3 separate regions of the Homo sapiens genome follow, and all the other regions are linked to region 3. The links come from fine-mapping of genetic effects on gene expression. A gene starts in region 3. Each other region holds a variant in brackets. All regions are shown on one strand. Distances are from middle to middle.

Region 1 (8,184 bases), 53 kb before region 3:
TAGCTGGGACTACAGGCACCCACCACCACGCCCGGCTAATTTTTTGTATTTTTAGTAGAGACAGGGTTTCACCGTGTTAGCTAGGATGGTCTCGATCTCCTGACCTCGTGATCCGCCCGCCTGGGCCTCCCAAAGTACTGGGATTACAGGCGTGAGCCACCGTGCCCGGCGCAGCATGTTTTTAAAAAATATGCAAAAATCAAGATATAATATTTTAACAATTCCTGAAGCCCACATCTCCCACTCAGACTTCGTTTCCACCACACATCTGCTTGTATTGGGTGGTGATGCGGCTCTTTGGGGCTTTAGCCGAAGGGAAGTCGAACTGGGTCTACACAGTAACATCCTCAGCCTGGACTAGGGCAGTGCACACCCTCTACTTTCAGAAGCTCCTCTCTTGTCCTTCTCTAGCTGCATTTCTACCCTAAGGGCAAGGAGTCTACAGGGCCAAAGGGAGCTTCACCCTCTTCCAGGCTACTCCTCAGGTGCGGCAGCCATGGGAATCTGCCTCTCAGAGCTTCCTTGAAGAAGAGCATGAGGGACTGGGTGCAGTGTCTCACGCCTGTAATCCCAGCACTCTGGGAGGCTGAGGTGGGCAGATCATAAGGTCAAGAGATCGAGACCAGCCTGGCCAACATGGTGAAACCCCATCTCTACTAAAAATACAAAAATTACCTGGGCCTGGTGGTGCACACCTGCAGTCCCAGCTACTTGGGAGGCTGAGGCAGGAGAATCACTTGAAGCCGGGAGGCAGAGGTTGCAGTGAGTCGAGATTGCGCCACTGCACTCCAGCCTGGCAACAGAGAGAGACTCTGTCTCAAAAAAAAAAAAAAAAAAAAAAAAAAAAACCACAGGAAAAAAAAAAAGAAGAGCATGCTGTCAGCAGCAAGGGCTGCAGTTAGCTGAGACCTCCAGCTAGAACAGCATCAGGATCTGCCACACTGTCTGAGTCAAGGCCACACTTCCACCAGGCAGCCTTCAGCTAAAGAGGGACCACAGCAGGAATCCTAGTGGCTGGCCAGCTCTGCCAGTGGGAGAGCCTTCTCATGGGCAGTCTTTCACTATAGCTCCCTATTGGGTTGGACCAGGTTTCATCAGATGGCATCTCACTCTGAGCCTCTACCTGCTTACTCTGCTCCTTCTCTAGTTCCTTTCACAGGTTCAGATTGGCATTGGGATATGAAGTCTTTTTCTGCCCAATCCTGCTTCATCCTCCTATCACGTTAACAAGGCTTACCTCTTACTCAGTCTCCAGCACTCCTAACTGACTCCATTTCTTCTACCCAGAGGACCTGACCTGACACCATCGATGCTGGAAGTGGCCTGAGAAAACAATAAAGAGAGGGCGTGGCACCTTGATCAGCTAGCATGAGGGCTCCATCCCAGGTGGTCTGGGAGGCACAGAGGGGTGCCTAGGATGACACAGCAACCCAATTGCTATGCTTTCAGTGATGCTGACTTGGGAAATTGCTCTGATGGGAAGACCCAGGTGGCGGATGCCCCTGATGACTTTGGTTCCCAAGACCCCTCTGAGCCCTCAGTGCTGGCAGGGATTGCCACTTCTCTCAAGAGTCAGCCCTTTCCCCACCCTGTAGAGGTCTCTCCCCTACACGATAGCAGGGCCCCCCTCAGGATCTGCCCCCATCTCCTTTCCTGGCTGCAAAGCCAATAAGTAGGATTAAATGGCAGCATAACCCAGCTGGGGACAGGCTAGGCTTGATAAGGGAGGAAAGCAAGAGCCCCCAAAGGTGCTGCAAGAGTGGACTGCCATAGACCAGTGGGCGCTAAGGGGGGTCCAGGCAGGGAGGGTGTTGATCAGGGTGGGGCTTAAGACCAGGTTTATTAGTTCATTCTCATACTTCTATAAAGAACTACCTGAGACTGGGTAATTTATAAAGAAAAGAGGTTTAATTGGCTCACGGTTCTGCAGGCTGAACAGGAAGCATAGCAGCTTCTTCTCAGCTTCTGGGGAGGCTCCAGAAAACTTACAATCTTGTGGTGGAGGAAGGGGACACGGGCACGTCTTACATGCCAGAGCAGGAGGAAGAGAGAGAGAGGGGGAGGAGGTGCTACACACTTTTAGACAACCAGATCTTGTGAGAACTCTATCATGAGAGCCGCACTGGGGAGACGGTGCTAACGCATTCATGAGAACCTGCCCCCATGATCCAATCGCCTCCCACCAGGCTCCTCCGCCAACATTGAGGATTACAGTTTGACATGAGATGTGGATGGAGACACAGATCCATACAGATCCAAACGGTATCATTCCACCCCGGCCGCTCCCAAATCTCATGTCCTTCTCACATTGCAAAATCCAATCATGCCTTCTCAACTGTTCCTTCCCCAAAGTCTTAACTCATTCCAGCATTAGCTCAAAAGTCCACAGTCCAAAGTCTCATCTGAGACAAGGCTAGTTAGTCCCTTCCACCTATGAACCTGTAAAATCAAAAACAATTAGTTACTTCCAACGTACCATGGGGGTACAGGCATTGGGTAAATACTCCCGTTCCAAAAGGGAGAAACCGGCCGAAAGAAAGGCTGCAGGCTCCACTCAAGTCTGAAACCCAGCAGGGTGCCATTACGTCTTAAAGCTCCAAAATAATCTCCTTGATTCCACGTCTCACATCCAGGGCACAGTGATGCAAGAGGTGGGCTCCCAAAGCCTTGGGCAGCTCTGCCTCTGGGGCTCTGCAGGGCTCAACCCCTGCGGCTGCTTATAGGCTGGCGTGGTGCCCTGAAGCAGGAGAGGCACATGGTAAGTGCTTAATCGCCGGGAGCCAGAAGGTCACACCCATTGTAACAACTGGCAAGGCTGGAGTGGCAGCCAACAGGGCTTGACTTCCAGAGTGAAGGAGATGTTGACAGAATACAGCAATGCTAGTGAGGGGCGGCCCATACGTGGACTGCTGTGTGTGTGTGTGTGTGTGTGTGTGTATTTACGTGTGTATATATAAACTGGACTGGAGTTAGCTTTTTGAAAAATATGACTTTTTAGTTTACTCAATGTCATTTTATTTATTTGTTTTTTTTGAGACGGGCTCTCACTACATTGCCCAGGTTGGTTTCGATCTCCTGGGCTCAAACGAGTCTCCCAACTCAGCCTGCCGAGTAGCTGGGATTACAGGCATGAGACACAGCCCCTGACTGGAGTCGGTTTCCAGAACGGAGAACTATTGACTGAAGAGGTGGCTGGGTACCCAGGAGAAAGAATCCTGTGACATGACAGTTTTTAAAGTAGAGATTTCAGATAAACAACAGGACCTATGACCATTTACTAGAGTGACTTTTTGCTGGGGAAAGAGGGTTGCTCAGCTATTTGAAGGACTATCTGAAGATCTGAATTGACATTGACATCCAGAGATCCGAAGACTCCTCCTAGCCCATCTCTTAGAGTAGGGCCGTGCAAAAAGCCAGGGAAGAAAGCGAGTGCTGGCTGAAGTCCAGCTGAGAGTGGGTCCACTGGCTCCGTGGATCCATCCTAAGGTCATTTTCTCAGTCCCTGAACGTATAATTGGCATTGGAAAAACTCGCACATTGGGTTTTTGGCCTGTAGAGTAAAAGCTGTCATACTGGGGAAAGCCAAGTGAAAACTCTTGATACTACTCCCACCCTGAACCTCAGCCAAGAGAGGAAAATACAAACAATATCGCATCCTGGGGGCTGCTAGAGATTAATGCCACCCTTATGGAACTCAAGGAGGCATGGCTGGAGGTCTCCCCCGTATTTCTATTTAGTTGACCAAACTGGCCCCTGCAGGAACCAGAGGGAACCCGGAGAACTGTGGACCACCACAAACCCAAATAGTAATAGCCCCAGTTACCACGACCAATGTAGTATCTTTGCCAGAGCAGATTACTACGGCCATTGATTTAATGAGTGCATTCTTTTTTATCCTGATCAGAAAAGAGAATCAGAAATATTCTGCATTCACATGGAACAGACAACACATATTTACAGTTTTGCCCCAGGGCTCTTTGACTCACTCACTTGCTTTCTGTCTTAACATAGTCTAGAGAGATCTGGATTGTTTGGGCATCCCACAGAGCATCATATTGATCCATGAAATTGATGACATCTTTCTAATTTGGCAGGATGAGAAAGAAGTAGCTGGCCTGTAGAGGACTTGGTAAAGTACATGTGCTCTTGAGGGTGGGGAAGAAACTCTATGAAGATTCAGAGACTGGCATATCAATAAAGTTTTTAGGGATGAAGTGATCAGGGGCATGCCAGGGCATCCTCTCCAAAGTAAAAGACAAATTGCTGCATTTTATAACCCCTATTGCAAAGAAGGAGGCACGATGCCTGATACGCCTCTTGGGTTCTAGAGGCAATACACTCCACACTTAACGAAGGCTATTCCAGACC[A/G]TCTGGTAAGTGACATGGAAGGCTGCCAGCTCTGAGTGGCCAAGAGCAGAGTGGGGCCTGCAGCAGGTTCAGGCTGTGGTGCAGGCAGCCCTGCCGCTTGGGCCATTTGATCCAGCAGTCCCTGCGGTGCTGGAGGTGTCAATGGTGGAGGAGGATGCAGTGTAGAGCTAATGACAAGCCGCCATGGGAGCATCACAACACAGGCTCCTGGGGGCCCGGAGCAAGGCCATGCCATCTGCAGCAGAGAATACATGCTTTTCGAAAAGCAGCTCTCGGTGTGTTATTGAGCCCTGATGGGAATGGGAGAGTTGCCCAGGGGATCTAAGTGAATGCATCTAGAAATACCCAGCATGATCTGGGCTCTCACAGAGTGATGGAAAAGGTTCACCTGGGATGAAGCCTGAGCTGGGGGTGAGGGAGCACAAGGAAGTTGTATGAGCAGGTGTCCCAGACCCCATGTCATCTGCCACAGCTGCACCATCACCCCTCCCTCAGCACACCCCCATGGCCATCCCGTCGGTGGGAGTGGGCGGGGGTGCCTTCTATACCCGGCTGAGAGTGGAGAAAGGGCCTGAATTTAATTTGCAGATGGTTTGGCTGGGTGCTGTGTGCGGAAACAAGCAGAAACTGGAGAGCAGCTGCCTTACAGCGACACTCAGGGACAGAGTGCTAAAGACAGTGGCCAGGGGAAACCCTTCTGATCAGGGGGATTCCAGCATTGTCCCTGGTCATGCACTTTGTGTGGAAGGAATCTTTGCCAAAGGTGAAAAAAATCTGAACTCATGGCAGTGGCAAGAGTTCACCTTATCACCTGACTTGGCAGACTGGTCAGGGGCCAGCCTAGAAGAATGAATGATCAGAGACCAGGAGGTCTGGGGGAGAGGCAGTTCATGGATATATGGAAATTGACATAAAGAATGGTGATCTTTGCATTATATATCAACTACCTGAAAGCGTTAGTCACGAAAGGGGCACGAAATAGCCAAGTAGGCAAAATAGCTCAGCCACGGATGTCAGCTAGCATATGCCATGAGCTATGAACTGGCAGAAGCAGAGATGACATATGGGCCCAGCAGCATGAACTCCCACTTACTAAAGCCAATCTGGCTATTGTGCACCGTGGCAGTCAGGGAGGAGTGTGGCTCAGATCTCCCTTCCAGAAGGAACTTGCTGGTCAGCGGCAAGGAGAGTAGTTAGCTGGCAGCATCCAGCTGAAGCCCCTTCACAATTCACTACAGCCCCTCCTGGGCGGCCCGGCCAGCAGTGAGCATGCTGGGAGCTTTCTATGCCCAAAGCAGGACCCCTCTGATGGGCAGTCTGCACCAGAACTGCCCATCGGGTTGACCACATTGTAAATGATCTCCAGGACAGTGTGGGGCTCTCCCTGCCCATTTTTGCCCTCGACACATTTCAGATCAGCATTGTGATCTGAAGCCTTCCCCAACCAACCCTCCTCTGTCACTTTTTATCTTTCAAAAATGTCTCTCCTCAGGAACCCTCTTGCATCCCCAATTCCATTCCTGGATCTGCTTATCAGAAGACCTGGATTGATACTCCAGGCCCAGAGACCCTTGCCAACATCAGTCATGCTACCAGGGCCCGTCAGGACCGCTGCCCACGTCCTCCCAAAGGCCGGCTCACACTGGTGTGCAACCCCAGGCCTGAGGGGCTGCCAAAATGCTGTGTACACGGGAATGGTCGATCTTAGCCATGAGCCTGGGCTATCCACACACGTGCCACAGCCCTCAGGCTGCAAAGTGCTTCCTCCTGGAGAAGGAGAACCGGCAGCCAGCCAGGGGGCAGGGCCAGCTTTCCCCACACAACACATTCCCGATGGAACCCAGGATTCTGAGAATTCTAAATTTGAATCTGGCCTTTCAAATTGTCAGGGTAGAAGGATGGGACACAGTGTATTTAACGGTTTGTTAGCGTGATTGATGACTTTCAGGAATTTATTTTAAACATATGAAAAGGGGACCTCCTTTCTAGTCTCGTCCTGGGCTATGCATTTGTTAGGAGTAGGCCTGGCCTGGAGATTCATTTATTTGGGTAAATGGGATATACTGATGCATTTCAAAATCACTTTCATCAGCTTGTTGCTAGCCATCCTGGTGGAAGAGTGGTTTCTAGAAATCCTCCTGAGGCCTGTGGTGCCCACTCACCAGGCATCATGACAGAAAGTGCAGTGCTCAAAGTCACACTGAAACAAATGCATTCTGGCTGTAAAAGGATGGGTTTGTGGGGATGAAGCAAGGCAGGGCAAGGTTGAAGGAAATGCTTCCAATCATGAATATGTAATGGCAATTGCAAGCAGAGAATTTGCTTGTCATTGATACCTAGTTGAAGCCATCAATAATAAAAAACAAATTTTGACCAACTGTGCTAAGGAAAAGACTGAATTAACTTTATAATCTCTTTATAGAAACAGAAAATACTACCACAAAACCATTGCCATAGGAAGAAGCTACTAAAATGCATGCAGCCAAAAAATGTAGGAAAAAGGTATTAGAAGCATAGAAGACAATTAATAAAATGTAGTACATTATTTTTCTAGATTTTGTGATATTTGTAGTATTTGTTCAGTTTTTCTTTTTTCTTTTTTCTTGAGACAGGATCTCACTCTGTTACTCAGGCTGGAGCACAGTGGCGTGATCACAGCTCACTGCAGCCTCAACCTCTCAAGCTCAGGTGATCCTCGCACCTCAGCCTCCTGAGTAGCTGGGACTACAGGCGTGTGCTACCACGCCTGGCTAATTTTTGCATTTTTTATAGAGGTGGAGTTTCACCACGTTGCCCAGGCTGGTCTGGAATTCCTGGACTCAAGTGATCTGCCCGTCTCCACCTCCTGAAGTGTTGGGATTATAGGCATGAGCCACTGTGCCTGGCCCAGTTTTTCTTTTTAATTGTAATTTGTTGTGATTTTTTTCTCCTAAGTAAATATCCCCTTTTATATTTGATGTGTTTGTAAATTTGTATTCTTCTTTCTTAAAAAGGACCCTCCACACTGAATAAGCTTCAGGCCCCACAACACCCAGATCCACTCCTGAATGAATATTATTATTACTAGTCAAAGTATTATTTTATCACATCCATGAGGGAGATAGAATTGCCTCTGTTTTACAGAAAAGTAAAGGCCAGGAGATGAAGTTGCTTACTCATTCTGACTCTGAATGCTTTTCCCGCTAGATTCTGGAATCTTCAGGCTTCTTGGCGCTCAGCCTGTTCGTTGATCCCCCTGCTGCTTCTACCACCCAGATCCCAGCAGGGAAAGCCAGAGGGAGACTAAATAGGAAGAAGAAGCCTCTCTGAATAAGCTGAGAAGGTTCCATAACGTCCCACTCTTCCGCAGCCCGTGGTCAGGGAGCTGGGGTGGGGGTGGGAGTGGCCGCACAGAAACCAAAAACCAACTGGCCCAAACAACCAGCTTTTGCAGGAAGGCAGAACAGGCAGTTAGGGGCTCCGGATCCCAGGCCAGGACCCTCGGACCTCAGTTAACGGCTAGTGTAGCTGAAGCCTGACGTCACCAACAGAGACAAGGAGGAGAGTAGGGAAGGATTACATATCTGTGGTTCTGATTTCCTGAAATAGTCCAGCCCTGCATGAAAGGTCTCTGTGCAGAGTCGGAGTCTAATCCAAGTTCAGGATGGCCACTAAGGGCACCTGATTTATCACTTATCTTTAGCCATGGGCCATGAACATTCCTTTGCTAATCAAGGCTGTTAACAACCCCAAAAGCGTTGCGTCTTAGAGCAGAAAGAATCCCAAGATCACTGAATCCAGGGATTCTTAGGTCCACCCTGAAGAAACAGAGAATCA
Region 2 (8,184 bases), 120 kb after region 3:
TTTATACTTGCTTCAGTGCATCTATTACAGTCATTAGTAAGAACACTGCATGGGGAGACCATTTCTTCCCTCTTTCAACTCTAGCTATATGTCATTTTAAGCTAGTCACAGTCTGTCTCTCTGGGCCTGACTTCCTCTTATGTAAAATAATAGAGCTGGTTTAACTCTTGCAGCAGCCCTGTCTGGCCTATCATGATGTAAATGATTTAAATCTGTGCTGTCCAGTGTGGTGACCATTGGTTACAACATGACTTAAAATGTGGCTAGTATAACTAGGGAATTGTGTTTTTCATTTTATTTAATTCATTTTAACTTTAAATTGCCACCTATAGCTAGTGGCAACTGTGTTGTATAACATATCTCTAGAGAATGATTTCAAAATGCTGATCCAGCCCAAGCATTAAAGGACCCTGACTGATCTGACCCCACATAGGAACTCTTTCTCTTGGACTATTCAGTAAAACATTTCCTCTCTTAAATTAAAAAAAAAAAAAACTCAACAAATTCGGGAGTTATCATTGATTTTATTTTGCTTTTAAGGGATGAGGGATCATTGGTGGTGTTAAATTTTAAATATATTCTTTGATTTAGAATATAACAATATGTCTGTTGTTTTGACTGGGACTCTGTGCCCGTAGAATATTTGTTCTTCCCTGCATGTGACAAATTTAAACTTAACATATTTAAGTACTAGGTGAAAAGTGTTTCCTTTGCATTCTCTGTTACATTCAGTATCTTCTTTCTTGAAATTTTAGGGGATACTCCATTTTATGCGGATTCACTTGTAGGAACATATAGCAAAATTATGGATCATAAGAATTCACTGTGTTTCCCTGAAGATGCAGAAATTTCCAAACATGCAAAGAATCTCATCTGTGCTTTCTTAACAGATAGGTAATGTACATTGAATTTCTTTGTAGAGAAGCCCTTTATGTTAAATTTATAGAAATAAAAGCATGCCTAGCTTATTAACATATGAAATCAGTCTGCCTCTCATTACCCAAGTAGCATCTAATTCTGGGTTAGCCTTTTCCTTCTGCTAAGCCTGGTGTTGGGCTACCTTGTTGTTATGTGTGTACAGCCCAGTTGTAATCGAACTCTAACCTTAACCCTCATGTCTAAAAAGGAAAAAATAGAACGTGGTAAAACAATGGATTTGAAAGAAATAAAACTTTCGTGTTGTTCACATTTTATCCTCCAAGCTGGTTATTCCATATTACTCTTATATAACTTTTGAGAGTATTTTGTGTAGATAAATACTCAACAGGTTATAATCTTAAAAACTATTTGTGTTAGACTTGGGAGTGCTTCCTTCCCAACCCTTTTTAATTTGCATTTGAATATGAGCAAGACTATCCTGGAAATTCCATACTTTTAAAAACAAAATAGATGAACAAAGGTGTGAAAACCTGCCCCCAAAAGATAAGCTAGAAAACTATTTGATTTCTCTTCTTTGTTCACCCCATTCCATTTTTTTCTAATGTCCCGTTTTATATTTGTGATAGGAGTCATCCTGTCAAAGGACCAACATATACAAGAGGATGCTCACACCCTCGTTCAAACTTACACATCAGCTTTATGATCTTGGGGAAATTATTTTTACTTTTTTGGGAAATAATTTTACTCATCCATAAAACAGTGGTCTCAAATTACAAAACTAAGGGCATTTCTAGCTTTAATATGCTAAGATTCCTTAGCACATCTTATTGCTTATTAATTTGTTACAAGCATTACTGCAGTGACTATCCTCACACATTCATCTCTGCATACTTTTTATAGGATAAAATCTTAAAGGTGGAATTCTGGGATACACATTTTAAACTTAAGTGATGTTACAAAATTGATCCCCAGAGAAGTTACAGCAGTATGTATTTCCATTAACAAAATTGTTTTCTTCTCGTCAAACTGAACATTGTAAAATGTTTTTTCTTTTTTTCATCAAAGAGGATAATTATTTTTATTTGTCAGTCATTTGTAGAATAAAACTTTAATACCTGTCAATTACATGGTTGACGAGCAGTTGGTGCTGATAAACTCAAAGTAAAATGGAAATGACGATTTATATATTAAGACCTGGAGATGAGGAGATGTTATCTTTGAAAAGAAGGAGAGACGCCTCTTTCTAAGAGGATAGGGTGGAAGAAGAACACAGCCTGTATGATGTTTGATGTGGGCACTGAGCAGGATTGGTAGGGATGGCCATAATTTGTGCTGGATGATAAATTGTACAACAGGGTACACCTGTTTTATGTTAATGAAAGGAGTGTTATTCATGAAAGTTTTGAATTAGTAGTCATGGGGCAGGGGTGTGCAATCTAAGGAATGATTATAGGTGGAAAACTGATATTTTGAAAACGAGTTAATGCCGTAAATATGGCTAGGAGCACTTCCCCTTAAGGTCTACAGTTTTCCTATTTATGTTAAACATAGCTCCAGGGCCTTGTATAACACAGATGCTCTCTATTTCCATACAGTCTTCATTGAAGACTCAGAGGGTCAAAGAATGAAATTCTTTGTAACATTTTTCATATATGCAGAATGATAAGTTTAATATACATGTAGAGATATACTTTACCAGAATAAATATGGATAGCTTCAAACATAATATATGCATTCTTTTTAGGAAAGGGAGAGATTTTTAAAATAATATTTCTATTAGGGAAGTTTTGAATAACTCTTCTCTGCCGAAAGTTAGACCTATGTCTGTTTATATCCTGAAGTTATTGTCATTCAGTCGTGGCACATGCAGGTGAATTTTTTTACTTGATAGTCTTAACGTACTTTCATTTGATGCAAACTATAGACAGAAACATTTTACTTTTCATGACATTTATTGTGCATTACAGTTTTTTAAATCTGTCTAAAGAGATCACATACTGTAACTTGGGATTGCTTATTTTTGAGAAACATTTAAGCTGAAGCTTTTAATACAAATATCTCAAATTTACTTGAGATCTTTATTTTGGTTAAACTGTTGACATAGAGTTAATCTTTTTATTTTATAATTTTTAAATAATACAATCTTTAACTGCATTGTTTAGGGAGGTACGACTTGGGAGAAATGGGGTGGAAGAAATCAGACAGCATCCTTTCTTTAAGAATGATCAGTGGCATTGGGATAACATAAGAGAAAGTAAGTCAATAAACCTAAATATTTTCATTCCATCACATTCTGAAACTCATAAGTTGATTCCTTTTTTGAAATAACAAGCATATTTGATAACACTTAATGCTAACTCATTTTTAAATTGAGAAATTTCATTTCAAATTTGTTCTGTGGCAATATTTATAACAATATTCCTCAATATCTTTGCAAACTATTAGCAATATTTCTCAACACTTTTACAATAAACATTACACATTTCTTAATTTGCCAAGTTAAGCTTTGTAGATCTCAATAATTTTCAGAATCAAGGGA[A/G]TGCAATCCTTTAATTTAAATGCGTTTGACTTGATAAATCAACAATTATTTATGGAGACCATACTCTGCTAAATATTGCTGTAAGCATAGTAACTTATTTTTACTATGTATATATGACATTGATTCATTTTAAGGGTAAGAAATATTTCTGTTTCGAGATTGTAGAAAATGGAGGTCTCTAAATTCTGTGCAAATTATTGCTGCTTGTAATTTTTAACAACTAGAATAATATGTTGCTTTCCTTGTTTAATCTATATTTAAAAGTGATCTAATATAGCAATAAATTACAAAATTTTAATTCTGTGAATCGATAAAATGGCAAATGCGCTGCTACAAATTTATATAGTGTTATTAAATAATAAATAATACATCATAATAAAATAGGATGGTTTATATATTTTGGTTGTGAATGAAATAATTTATTTCTTTTCTTTTAATAGCGGCAGCTCCTGTAGTACCTGAACTCAGCAGTGACATAGACAGCAGCAATTTCGATGACATTGAAGATGACAAAGGAGATGTAGAAACCTTCCCAATTCCTAAAGCTTTTGTTGGAAATCAGCTGCCTTTCATCGGATTTACCTACTATAGAGAAAATTTGTATGTGGTTTATTATTTGTTAAATTTTACTGTTTTTAGAATCTAGCTATAAGATGATGTGTTATTTTGAGACTCAATTATAGGAGATAAAGTATTAATTTGTTTTTTCCAAAAGGACTATCATCAGAAGAATTCTTAATTTTATTTTATTATTTCTGAATGTTATATGTTATTCATTTATAAGTTATTGCAAGACACCATTCTACATTCTTTTGGGGATATACAGTAAAAACAAATACCTATTTTTGAAGAAGCTTGTCATCTCGTGAAGGATATAAGAGAATTATATAGTCATAAAGAAGGGTAAAATGTGACAGTTGCCTTAAGAAAGATGCTGAGAGAATCTGGGATGGTTCAGAAGAAAAATAGAAGTCATCTCTTTGGGGTGGGAGTAGGGAGAAATAGGTCAGACCTCTGGGAAGAGGTGGCATTTTAGCCAAGTCTAACAAGAAAAGGTTTTGAGTGGCTGAAATGTGGGGAGGTTAGGGGACAGTTGTGAGGTGTTGAATAGTGGAAGCAAATGTTTGGAATGTGAGCATACATTGGGAGCAGAGCACTCGCATTGAGTCCAGTAGCACTCAAACATAGAGCAGGTGCTACTATGTCATTACAGTTTGGAGGACTCGATGAGACTATGTGGTTTTCTTGCCTGTAGTCTCTGCATCTAGCAGAAAGTCTGACACAAGATCATTCAATAAATATTGGTTAACTGAAGTGAGTATTGGATGTAAGATTAGAAAATATGTTGAGGCCAGGTGTGGTGATTCACACATGTAATCCTAGCACTTTGGGAGGCTGAGATGGGAGGATAGCTTGAGCCCAGGAGTTCTAGACCAGCCTAGGCAACAAAGTGGAACCCTGTCTTTACAAAAGAAAAAAAAAGCCGGGTACGGTGGCTCATGCCTGTAATCCCAGCACTTTGGAGGCTGAGGTGGGCAGATCACCTGAGGTCGGGAGTTCAAGACCAGCCTGACCGACATAGAGAAACCCCGTCTCTACTAAAAAATACAAAATTAGCTGGGCATGGTGGCACATGCCTGTAATCCCAGCTACTCTGGAGGTTGAGGCAGGAGAATCGCTTGAACCCAGGAGGTGGAGATTGTGGTTGAAACGAGATCGTGCCATTGCACGCCAGCCTGGGCAACAAGAGCGAAACTCCATCTCAACAACAACAACAACAACAAAAAAGCCAGATGTGGTGGTTTGCGCCTGTAATCCCAGGTACTCAGAGGCTGAGATGAAAGGATCACTTGAGGCCAGGAGTTCAAGGTTGGAATGAGCTGTTCCAGCCTGGGCGACAGAATGAGACCATGTCTTAAAAAAAAAAAAAAAAAAAGTGAGTTTTGGGGAAGAATAATCAACAGATGATTGTTGTGTGCTCTGCTAAGGGGCTTTTGACCGCCTGGCATTGGGAAGCCACTGAAAGCTGTTCAATAGTTGAATGAGGCATTAAAGATATTTGAGAAGCCCAGGAGTTCGAGGCTGCAGGGAGCTATGATTGTACCGCTATACTCCAGCCTGGGTGACAGATTAAAAAAAGAAAGAAAAATGAGATAATAAGATGAAGAGGTGGGAAGTATAGTTTCATTTAGTGAGTCTGGTGCAAACAAAATTAAAGACTAGTTATCCCGTAAGAGGGAAAGGCAAGAAAAGTTTAGCATTTGATTGATTGATTGATGGATGGATTGAGATGGAGTCTCACTTCGTCGCCCAGGCTAGAGTGCAGTGGTGCGATCTCAGCTCACTGCAACCTCCACCTCCCGGGTTCCAGCAATTCTCATGCCTCAGCCTCCCGAGTAGCTGGTACTACAGGTGTCCACCACCATGCCCGGCTAATTTTTTTTTTTTTTTTTTTTTTTTTGTAGAGATAAGGTTTCACCATGTTGATCACACTGGTCTCGAACTCCTGACCTCAGGTGATCTTTCCCGCCTTGACCTCCCAAAGTGCTGGGATTATAGGTGTGAACCACCACGCCTGGCCCTAGCATTTTAAATTATTGAAAATGATACAAATGTCTTGAGGGAAAAATATTGCTTCATTTGTAAATAATGTGTTGAAGGGAAAAGAGAGAAATCTGTGTTTGATATTTAAGTCTGAGAATAACTTGAATAAAACAGCACATAGATTAAAATGAAATGAAAAAATTTATTTTCTCCCCCCTTCCATGTAGATTATTAAGTGACTCTCCATCTTGTAGAGAAACTGATTCCATACAATCAAGGAAAAATGAAGTACGTATACATTTTTACTGCTGTAGTTATTTTAGTTTCATGTTTAAATATTTTAGTAATCCCCATGTTTTTAAAAAGCTAATTTGATGCTCCTTTTAAAATCATGAGATGGCATTCCTTGTGTAATACAGTTTAACATAGCATTGCAATGATTGATTTATGTGAATAGTATCATTATTCAAGACATGATGGCTAGTACAAAGAGGACTTCTACATGGCTTTAGGCTTAATTGAGTGCCAAAAGTGATAGAATAAGTTTGTAAACAACTATAATAACATTTAGAAAATTGACTTCTATAATTTGTAAATGAATGCAAAGCTAAATCATACATGGATATACACATACACATAAATGATGATGCTAAACATTTTTTCTTCAAACTTATGAAAGCTAAAGCATTAGGTTGGATAATTTTGTTATGGTTTGTGTTTTAGGAATTTTACAGAATATAACCATCATTTTAGTATTTTAATGTGTTTTCTGTTTTGTTTTAAATAGGAAAGTCAAGAGGTATGTTGATGTTGTCAGATATATTGAAAAACTGAGAAAAGCTCATCACTCTCGCAAAGTTTAAATATAGTCATATCCTACCTAGCATTTGGAGTACTACATCTACCCAAGAGAGAAGTTCCCAACCTTTCTTCTACCAAGTATCTCTTTTATTATTGTTCTGTGGATCTGTTTAAAATATATATTATGTAATTTTGTTTTTATTTATCAAGGACATATAACTGGCAGCAAAAATTTCTGATTAGCATATAATAACTGGTGTGCTCAAATTATTGTAATGCAGTAGTAGCCAAAAGCAATTAAACTTGACTAGTTCATTAGCCTGTATATTTTTATTAAGGGAAAACAGAGTTTTGCTTAAGATAGATGCAGTATTTAAAACCATGGAGAACCTGATCACTAGAAGGAATAATGGAAAGTACATTGCCATGGGAGTCTAATAGACCTGCATTGATTTTTGCCACTGCGACTTATTAGCTATGCCATCTTGGCCTGATTATTTACCTTTTTTGAATTTCATTTTCTGTATCAAGTAGATACAATGCTACCATCTTTGTAGGATTTTTGTTAATATTAACAAGACAACATTTGTAAAGTGCCTGATATTTTACCAAAGGCACCACAGGAGCTCAAAAAGTTAAATCCTTTAAAAAGTAAATAATGTTCCAAAAATGGATTATTTAATAGTTTCGGTAATTTTTGCTTGTTTAAAGACTTACATAGCTAGGGAAAGCTGCTGAGGAGCTGGCTTGTAATTAATTAGCTATCATTTATTCGAAAGTTATTGATTACTCCTCGGTAATATGACCAGCACTACATAGGAAGATATAAAAGAAGAGCTTATATTCTTTACTTTGAGCATATTCAGTTGAGTACTCTGAATATTTGTTTTAGATGTATTCATTTTTATCCGACTAGCACAAATAATGACAATATTTTCAAGCAAATAATTCATAGAAAAGCAGCAGAAGATATCTGAGGTGGTATTCTTTATAATGAATTTGAAACTTTGTGTCATAGAACAATTCTGCCAAAGTTAGAGCTTCTTATGCATGGTTACATAAGTATGTTTCATATATACATGTGTACTCTGATAGAAAGCAAGAGATGGGGGAGTTTTTCCTTTTATCAATATAAGTCACATTAAGGAGGTACAAATACTGTACCATTATAGAGGACATTATGTTTAGTGGAAAGACAAAATAAGCTTATCATTGTTTTCTTTAAGCCTCTCATCTTTAAATATGACCAAAATACGTAATTACAGTTTCTTGTTTTTTGACAGATTCAGAAAAAACTGTATACATTAGAAGAACATCTTAGCAATGAGATGCAAGCCAAAGAGGAACTGGAACAGAAGTGCAAGTATGTTTTGTAGATAATTAAATATTACATTATAAAATTTAAGTTTAAACATTTACTG
Region 3 (8,184 bases):
CCACAGCTAATTTGGGATGAGCTGAGCTGAGAATATTAGGAAACTGCCATTTCCTCATAACCTGTTGCAATTCCAGTATTCTGTGTGACCTAAAAACTGGGTTGGAAATCCTCCTTAACACAGATACAGAACCCAGAAGCTGTAGAGGACAATATCAACCGATTTGACCGCATAACAGGTAAAAAACAAAACTGAATGACAAGCAACAGACTGGAAAAAAATCTTCACAAACTGTAACATATTTTAATATATTCTATTATAATATAACAAAAAGGAATATCCAAAATACATAAGGAGCTCTTATAAATAATAAAAAGAGACAAAACTAATGGATAAAAGATATAAACAGGTAATTGCAGAAGAAATAGATAGACAAAATGCCTATCTTCAGTAGTAATTAAGGGAATACAAGTCAGAACAAGATGGCGTTTTTTGCCCATTTTATTGACAACAATTAAAAATATAATATTGAATACTGGGAAAGGTGAAGGGACATGGGCAGTTTCTTCTACTCACGCTGAGAATGTAAACGGGTAGCGTCTTTTTAAAGGCCAGGTTGAGGCCCGGCTCTGTGACTCACCCCTGTAATCCCAGCACTTTGGGAGGCTGAGGTGAGTGGATCGCTTGAGCTCAGGACTTAGAGAACAGCCTGGGCAACAAGGCAAAATCCTGTCTCTACAAAAAATACAAAAATTAGCCAGGCATGGTGTTGTGTGCTTGCAGTTCCAGCTACTCAGGAGGCTGAAGTGGGAGGACTGCTGGAGCCCTAGAGGTGGAGGTTGCAGTGAGCCAAGATCTCTCGTGCCACTGCACTCCAGCCTGAAGGACAGAATGTAAACCTGCCTCCAATAAATAAATAAATAACAGGTTGGCAGCATCTGTATTTACAGTATGCCTACCCTTTGTTATGACAATTCCACTTTTAGGAATCTATACTATTCAAATATGAGGATACGAGGATGTCAATGGATCATTTTAACAGTGAGAAAATATTAATAATATCTAGCATTGATTGAGGGCCAGCACATTTCTAAGCACTTTATAACAAATATTGTGAGGACCCCGAGACACAGAGGAGTTAGGTAACTTGCTCAGGGTCACATGGCAAGTGTGTGTTTGGGGCAGGATTTTGGCAATTGTTTCTTAACCACTATGCTCTCGAATAGAGAATAATTACAGTGTGGCACATCCAAACTGGGGAGTAGAGGACAGCAGGTAAGCGGAATGAAGCAGATCTCTGCCTATAGACATGGACACGCCTCTAGGACATATTAGTAATGAAGGGAAAAAACCAAGTTGCCAAACACCATGATATGGTATAATTTCATGTCTGTGGGGAAAAGGTAACATGTATCTATAATACATATGTATGAGAATGGCCAAAGGCCTTGAGTGATATAAGAATGTATGTGGAAATATAGTCAGAACAGTAAATTTTAGATTATGTTCCATATATTTCTGGTTCGTTTGAACTTTTACAAGAATGCATTTGTGCATTACTTTTGAAAACAAGAATTGTTGTACTAACCTCCTCCTTACCCTTACCCCATCCTGCAAAAAGGTTTAACTCATATCAACAGATTCATTTTCTCTTCTTCCAGGTAGACAATGGGATAGGTCTTGGGTAAAAATCTTCTGTACCATGGCTTTTTCTGGTCTATATAAATAAGTATATGTAGAACATGCCCAGGATATATATCTTGTTGATCACTACTCTTAAAATAAGGTTTTCATGTTCGGTATTTGGACCATGGCTTCCTGTTATTCCACCAAGCTACATACAAATATACAACCAGTCAAAATTAATTTGGAAACTGAGAACCACAGTGTTTTTTTTTTTTTTTTTTTGAGACAATCTCACTCTGTTGCCCAGGCTGGAGTGCAGCGGTGTGATCACAGCTCACTGCAGCCTTGGCCTCCTGGGCTCAATGGAGGAGGCCTCCAACTCAGCCTCAGGGGGAGCTGGGACTACAGGCACAGGCCACCACGCCCCGCTAGACAGAGTGCTCCTTTTGCCTTGCATATTATTTTGTCATCAGAAAAATAATCCATAATCATAGATTATCTCATTATTTTGCTCCAATGCATAAGTGGGAGTGTCTAGCTCCCTCTGTTCTCCTGGTGGCCTCTGTGGAGGTCTGAATGAGTAGCTCAATACACAGACTTAAAGGACTCTCTGGATGTGAAGTCAGTGTTACTATCTGAAAGGGAAAAGCTGCATTGGATGGATCATCGGGGCCTCTTCCTGCATGAGTCCAGCTAGGGGTGGTTTTAACTAACCTAAAACCAAAGAAGAGGCTCCAACTAATCCAATGGTTTGGATCAAAATGCAACTTTTACAGGGCTGGGGCTTCACCCTATCTTCGGGTTTATCTCTGACATGCCAGGGAGACAGTTCTTAACATTCTTATTACTTAATGGATATCAGATTGTTGCTTTTCGGAGTGGTTTTTCCATTTTTTGAAATTTAATTTGTTCTTAAGTATCTTTACAGAAAAAAATCCCATTTATTTAAGAAGTACTGTATTCTCTGGTTCTTATAGCTGCTCATTTTACATAGTTTTAGTGTGTACAAACGATTTTTTTTGTTTCATTTATTTCTAATATACCTTCTCATGTACTTGCCAAAATTTCATGTTTGACACAGTCTGCATACCTGCCAGGATTCTTGCTGTTAATGTGAAGGCGCCTGTTTGGGTTACTCAATTGTTGGACAACTGGGCCCATTCCCAGGTTTTGGTCATCACGAACATTGTGAATAGCCCTGCTGTTAACATCTTTCTGCAAGTTCTCCCCCTTCTTCGCCCTTTGGATCATTTCCTTGGAAATGTACTTCCTTAAATGGGTTTACTGGGTCAAAGGGGCTCTATGAACGGTTTTATAGCTCTTGGCACATAATTTTCGGATTGCGCCCTGGGCGGATCTAAGCGATGGCACCGGCCGCCGAGAGGGCAGGAATGCGGCGGAACGGTCCCGATAACCACCCCTCTTCCGCCCCCCAAAAGGAGAAGACCCCGCGAAGGCCTGCGGCTGGAAAGCCTTTTTCCGGTGCTCTCCCGTTCTCTTGAAGTGGTTAGTGTCTAAGCCGGGCAGAAACGCTTTCAGGATCCCAGGCCCTCCTGCCCCAGGACTAGGATTCCACCCGCCTCCGCTAATTCGGAATCCCAGACACCCAGGGCCCCCTCTCAGGCTCGCCTCGAAACCCCCGGCCCTGCGGCCCCTCGCGGGCGCCGAGCTCGGTCGCTATTATTTGGGCGCGGGTGAGGCGAGGCCCGCATAGCTGCGCGCTGAGTCAGCGGGGGCCGCGGCGGGGGGCGCGGCCGGGCTCCCCCCCAGCGCACGGTGCGCTGGGCCCGGCGTCTGGGGTTCCGCCTCGGGGCCGCGGGGTAGTCCGCGGGGTCCGGCGGGAGGGGCAGGGGGCGCGCGGAAGGACCCGGCCTGGGTGCGTCTCCCCTCCCCCAGCAGGAGCTCGGCCGTGACCGCGCGCCCGGCTATTCGCCTCAGAGAACCTCGCCAGGGGGAGGAGGCGAGGGCGGGCGAGGAAGGGGCGCAGAGGAGAAAGCGGAGCGGGACAGACGCAGGAAGGGAAAGAAAGGGAGGAAGCGCGGTGCGCGGGGCGGGGCGGGGCGGAGCGCGCGCAGGGCCGGCGGGGACGCGCGCCGGCGGCTGCGGGCGGAGGGGCTTGTGGGTAGCGGCGGCGCGCGGCCGGAGACGGGCGGCCGCGCGGGAGTGTGTGCGCCGGGAGCTGGCTGAGGGACTGCAAGGCGGCCGGCGGCGACCATGGCAGCGGGCCGGCGGCGGCCGTAGTGGCCCAGGCCTGGGCTTCAGCCTCCCGGGGCCCCAGAGGGCGGGGCGGTCCGGGCCGCGGCGGTGGCGGCGCCACTTCCCTGCTCCCGCCCGAGGACTCCTGCGGGCACTCGCTGAGGACCAGCGGACCGGCGGCGCGAATCTGACTGAGGGGCGGGGACGCCGTCTGTTCCCCGCCGCTCCCGGCAGGGCCGGGCCGGGCTGGGCCGGGCTGGGCCGGGCGGGCCCCTGGGAGCAGCCCCCAGGCGGGGGACCGCCTTGGAGACCCGAAGCCGGAGCTAGAGGCAGGCGGTGGGCCCGGGTGGAGTCCCGGCCGGAGCTGGTGGTTCGGGGGCGGTGCTAGGCCCCGAGGCTGCGGGACCTGAGCGCGAGGAGCCTGAGTGCGGGTCCAGCGGTGGCGGCATGAGCCGGCCCCCGCCGACGGGGAAAATGCCCGGCGCCCCCGAGACCGCGCCGGGGGACGGGGCAGGCGCGAGCCGCCAGAGGAAGCTGGAGGCGCTGATCCGAGACCCTCGCTCCCCCATCAACGTGGAGAGCTTGCTGGTAGGTGGCCGGGGCCTGGGAGCTTGCTCGTTGCAGCTCACACCTCAGATCCCCTCTCCGCCCAGCCCTCCGTGCCCGTCCGCCCGTGGGGAGGGGGAGGTCTTGCCCCACCCCGCCCTGCTTCCGGCAGCCGGGGCCGGAGACCAAACGATTCTGTCACCGAGTTCCAAGAGTAGTGACCCGCCTTTGATTCCTCCCTCTACCTCCTGCTGGAGCCAGTGTCATCCCCGGCTGCTCCTTTCTTGCAGCACTGGGAGGAAAACACCCCTCTTCTCCTTCCGCCTGCCCACTCTGGGGAGGTGGGTGGAGGACTGGCCATGCTTCATACACCAGGTTAGCTGATTTGAAAGTGTCATGCTACGTGGGGACTTGGTGCGAGCGAGGGAGAAAGAAACCTGATGCTGTCCCTGTTGCGAGTACTCACTGGGGTACATGACAAAGAGCCGCCCTCACTCTCTCCTTTTAGTCTGAAATCTTGGAACACACAGCTAAAGTTTTGCTGTTTTCACTTGCGTTTGAGCATTCCATACTTGCTATTTAGTGCATTTTAATTGCTGTAAATTTAATTCCCTGAGATTATTGCGCCAGAGCCAAAAAATCAGTCTGAATTGTGGAGTGGAATAAATCTGTCCTCTTCATTGCGTCTCTTTCCTATAACGACCTTTGAAATCCAGATTAATAGCACCGTAAAGGCTGCTAATTGGCTCTTGGTTAAGAAAGGAGCATGTTTTACAAAATAGAAATGCACCGTAGAATGCTGGCTTATTTCTTATTTTTGTTAGGATAGATGATTGTATTTCGCAATTTGAGTAGTGTGCAGTGTAGATGCATTTATGGGAAAAGGGGGTGTGGACTTTTACCCTGGGGAGGGGAAGAAAGGTGAAAACGATACTCTGTGTATTAAATTGACTCTGGAAGACTAGAACTAGGGTGGGAGGTCCTTAGATCCGTTAGACATTCTGTGCTGGAATGCAGATGTTTAGTTCTATTCCCTCCTGGAATAAACCTTACTGTATGATGAGAAAAACTGCCTCCTCCCTTTCCAGGGACGGACGGACTGGCTTTTGGTCAGAGGCGGTTGGTTATCCTTTGAGGTTTCAGGCATCGTTTGCAGAGTGACTCAGTCCTGTTTGGTCAAAATGCAGGAACTGACTTTAGCTATATAGTGTCTTTCTGCACAGTGTACAGAAAGTAATGAATGATGTGCTATATTGTGTCACATGTGTTTGATGTTTTACTGTTTTTCGGGTTAATGTGTTGTTCCTATGTTTTAATGGGAGCAGTCTTTGAAAGTCTTTAATCGGGAGTAAGATTGCTTGCATGGATGGCATAGCTTTTCCTAGGCTAAAGCGGAGACTCTGGGCTGCACTCCCAGCATTTTCACTTTGGTATTTTGCTAGCAAAACTTTGACCTAAGGCCAGAAAGTTTAGTTAAAAATAGTACAGCAAATCTCAAGTATTCATCAGGTTCATGCTAAATCCTAGATGGAAACGTTTTGCAATTCACTTTGATATCTTAGATCTTTAATGATATTAATCATAATTATTAGAGTTATTCTGAGCTTGAATGTAAGTAGCTTATACATGTAATATGATCATGCATTTTGTTTTATTGCTTTCCAAATTATTAAAATGGAGGCTATTTTTAAAAGTGAAACATCTCACATGTTCAGGACACAGTTCATTCATTTAGCAGTTATTACAGCCAAAACACACTTTTATTAAGGTGGCACATTACGGATCTGAGAATTGACATCAGGTGCTGATGACTTGACAGACTCTGTTATTGCTGTTTCTAGTTGGTTAAATATGCTTGAGGTGCAGTAAACCTTTCCAAGCCAAAATGCGTCCCTTATTCCTTTGGAGCAAGGTTCCTGGTGTTTCTGTTACAAATTGATAAACGAAATTTAAAAATTTTTTTATAATAAATTAATTTTAAATTACGCGTATTTTATTTATGAACTACTAGAATGGATTTTTTATTGTGGTAGCGTATACAGAATTTACCATTTTTAACCATTTTTAAGTGTACAGGTTAGTGGCAGGCATTAAATACATTCACATTGTTGTGCAGCCATCACCACTATCCGTCTCTGGAATCTTTTCATTTTTCCAAACTGAAACTGTAAATTAATGTTTAAAAGAATGTTATAAAAATTATATTTCCTGAAATACTGACGAAATAATGGCTGGTATCACTTTAAAGATCTGAAACCTTAGCATTTAGGTTGCATTTCACTATTGGTCATTGTTTTACTGCCTATGACATTTATTTTTTGGTTTTGCCATGGGAAATACATATTTTGTCTTTAACAGAAAATTTAAAGGAATATAATTTAAAGCAAACACAGCTGCGACACTACATTCAGGAGCTCAGAAAGTACCATTAAAAATAGTATATACCTAAGATGACAAAAGAAGATGAAGTACACCAGAAATGATTGTATGATGCTTTCAGTGGGCTAGGCCTAGAAGGTAAAACTCTGTAGGAAACAAAGTTTTATGAGATAACGTGTAAAGTGCTTAGCCTAGTGCTTGGTACATCACAGTGCTCATTAAATTTAGTTCACTTCTCCTGTGCACACTTAGCATGTTATTAGTTAACTGCTTTAAATTTTCTTTTCAAAGGAAAATGGTTTTATTTGCAACTATTTCTTGCTACATAATTTTGAGTGAGTAGCATTATCATTTGAATTTGTCATCAGAAAAGTGCTAGCAATCATTAGGCATAGGTAGAGCTGGATTCCAAGACTAAATCAGTGTAAAGATGACATCTTGTTTCTCTGCAAAGGCTCATGGCTTTATGTGGGTCCTTAAATTAATCTGAGAAGAGTATATCTCTTTTATGGTTGCAGATTGTGAGCCGCTTAGTATTACTTAGAGTTTTGCTTCTCTACTGCCTCTTTTTTTTTTTGGAGGCGAGTCTTCAGTAATATGCTTTTGTAGTGTTTGAAACCTTTGGGTAAATACCTATGCTTTGTTGTCAAGACCAGCTTCTCATACTGCTTACCTATTATGGTAAAAAGAACTGTGTTTCAGGCTTTGCTGAAGAGATATTTTTCTAAAGGTCTGTGCTTTTTGAGTGTTGATTTATTTTACTCTTTCAAAGAGTAAACAGTCACAATAACCTGTAGGACTCACGCTTGGGTAAACTCTTACTTAAGACTTGTGTGGATGGGCAAAGGTGATTAAAACTTTGTTTACAATTTTCAGTGGCATAAAACATAAAATAATTTGATTGATTTCATTATACTTGTAAACTATCTGACAATATTATCTCAGTGCTTAGACTCTTTCAGCATGCTGCTGGTTATTTGCCTAGTTAAAATAAAATTGTATGTGTATTTTTCCCATCATGTAATAAGTAAGAACATTATAAAGATACAATAAAAATGAAATAGAATAAAAATTAAAAATCATTTTATACATTTTTTTCTTTATGAAGAGTTTGGCATTTATAGTGTAAAATTTGTGACTAGTTTACTTTAAAACTTTCATGTTGATAGGAGATATTTAAAGAAAATGAGTTAGCTAGGGAGGTTTTAAAAAAAAGGTGATGTGTGGAACTTACTGTTGATGTGAAGCAAGTGCAGGTCCGCAATCCCTTATCCACAATTTTGATATATAAAAAACCCAGTTTTTGGTAAAATGTATTTGATGATAACATCTGACCTAATCTCACATTAGAATACTTGTGGTCTAGTCATTCCTCTTGATGTAAATAATAATGCCTTTTGCTGGAGGAATATGAATGTATTTGATTTCAGGGTGTTGCCCAGATTTTCAAGAGCATTTTTGGGAGTACACAGTATATGTACTGTGTACCTTTCTAAA

Which allele goes with the higher level. Positions count from the first base shown, and alleles are read on the strand shown. Sizes are in standard deviations (SD) of each study's normalised expression. Not every link is listed here.
As copies of G replace A in region 1, the expression in cerebellum of the gene that starts at base 3,710 in region 3 goes down (moderate effect, 0.49 SD a copy in GTEx).

The links.
Region 1: its variant is fine-mapped to the expression of ROCK2 in cerebellum (GTEx, PIP above 0.99). The same link has a PIP of 0.9 or more in cerebellar hemisphere.
Region 2: its variant is fine-mapped to the expression of ROCK2 in whole blood (TOPMed, PIP above 0.99).

What each region holds. Positions count from the first base shown.
Region 1 is chr2:11,393,511-11,401,694 of GRCh38, reverse strand. It overlaps LINC00570 (long intergenic non-protein coding RNA 570), which reads right to left and starts at 7,714. Exons shown (of 3, transcript NR_047499.1): 1 at 7,524-7,714; 2 at 1,238-1,323. The variant A/G (reference allele first, on the strand shown) is at 4,369.
Region 2 is chr2:11,217,032-11,225,215 of GRCh38, reverse strand. ROCK2 (Rho associated coiled-coil containing protein kinase 2) reads left to right here. Exons shown (of 33, transcript NM_004850.5): 7 at 756-894; 8 at 3,042-3,133; 9 at 3,859-4,018; 10 at 6,190-6,250; 11 at 6,750-6,761; 12 at 8,047-8,126. Among named protein-coding and RNA genes, the nearest start is that of SLC66A3, 66 kb to the right of the region's middle. The variant A/G (reference allele first, on the strand shown) is at 3,419.
Region 3 is chr2:11,340,162-11,348,345 of GRCh38, reverse strand. It overlaps ROCK2 (Rho associated coiled-coil containing protein kinase 2), which reads left to right and starts at 3,710. Exons shown (of 33, transcript NM_004850.5): 1 at 3,710-4,350. The coding sequence starts at 4,210. It overlaps LOC124907733 (a long non-coding RNA gene), which reads right to left and starts at 2,834. Exons shown (of 2, transcript XR_007086216.1): 1 at 2,657-2,834. RefSeq lists silencers at 3,226-3,385, 3,456-3,525, 3,666-4,395.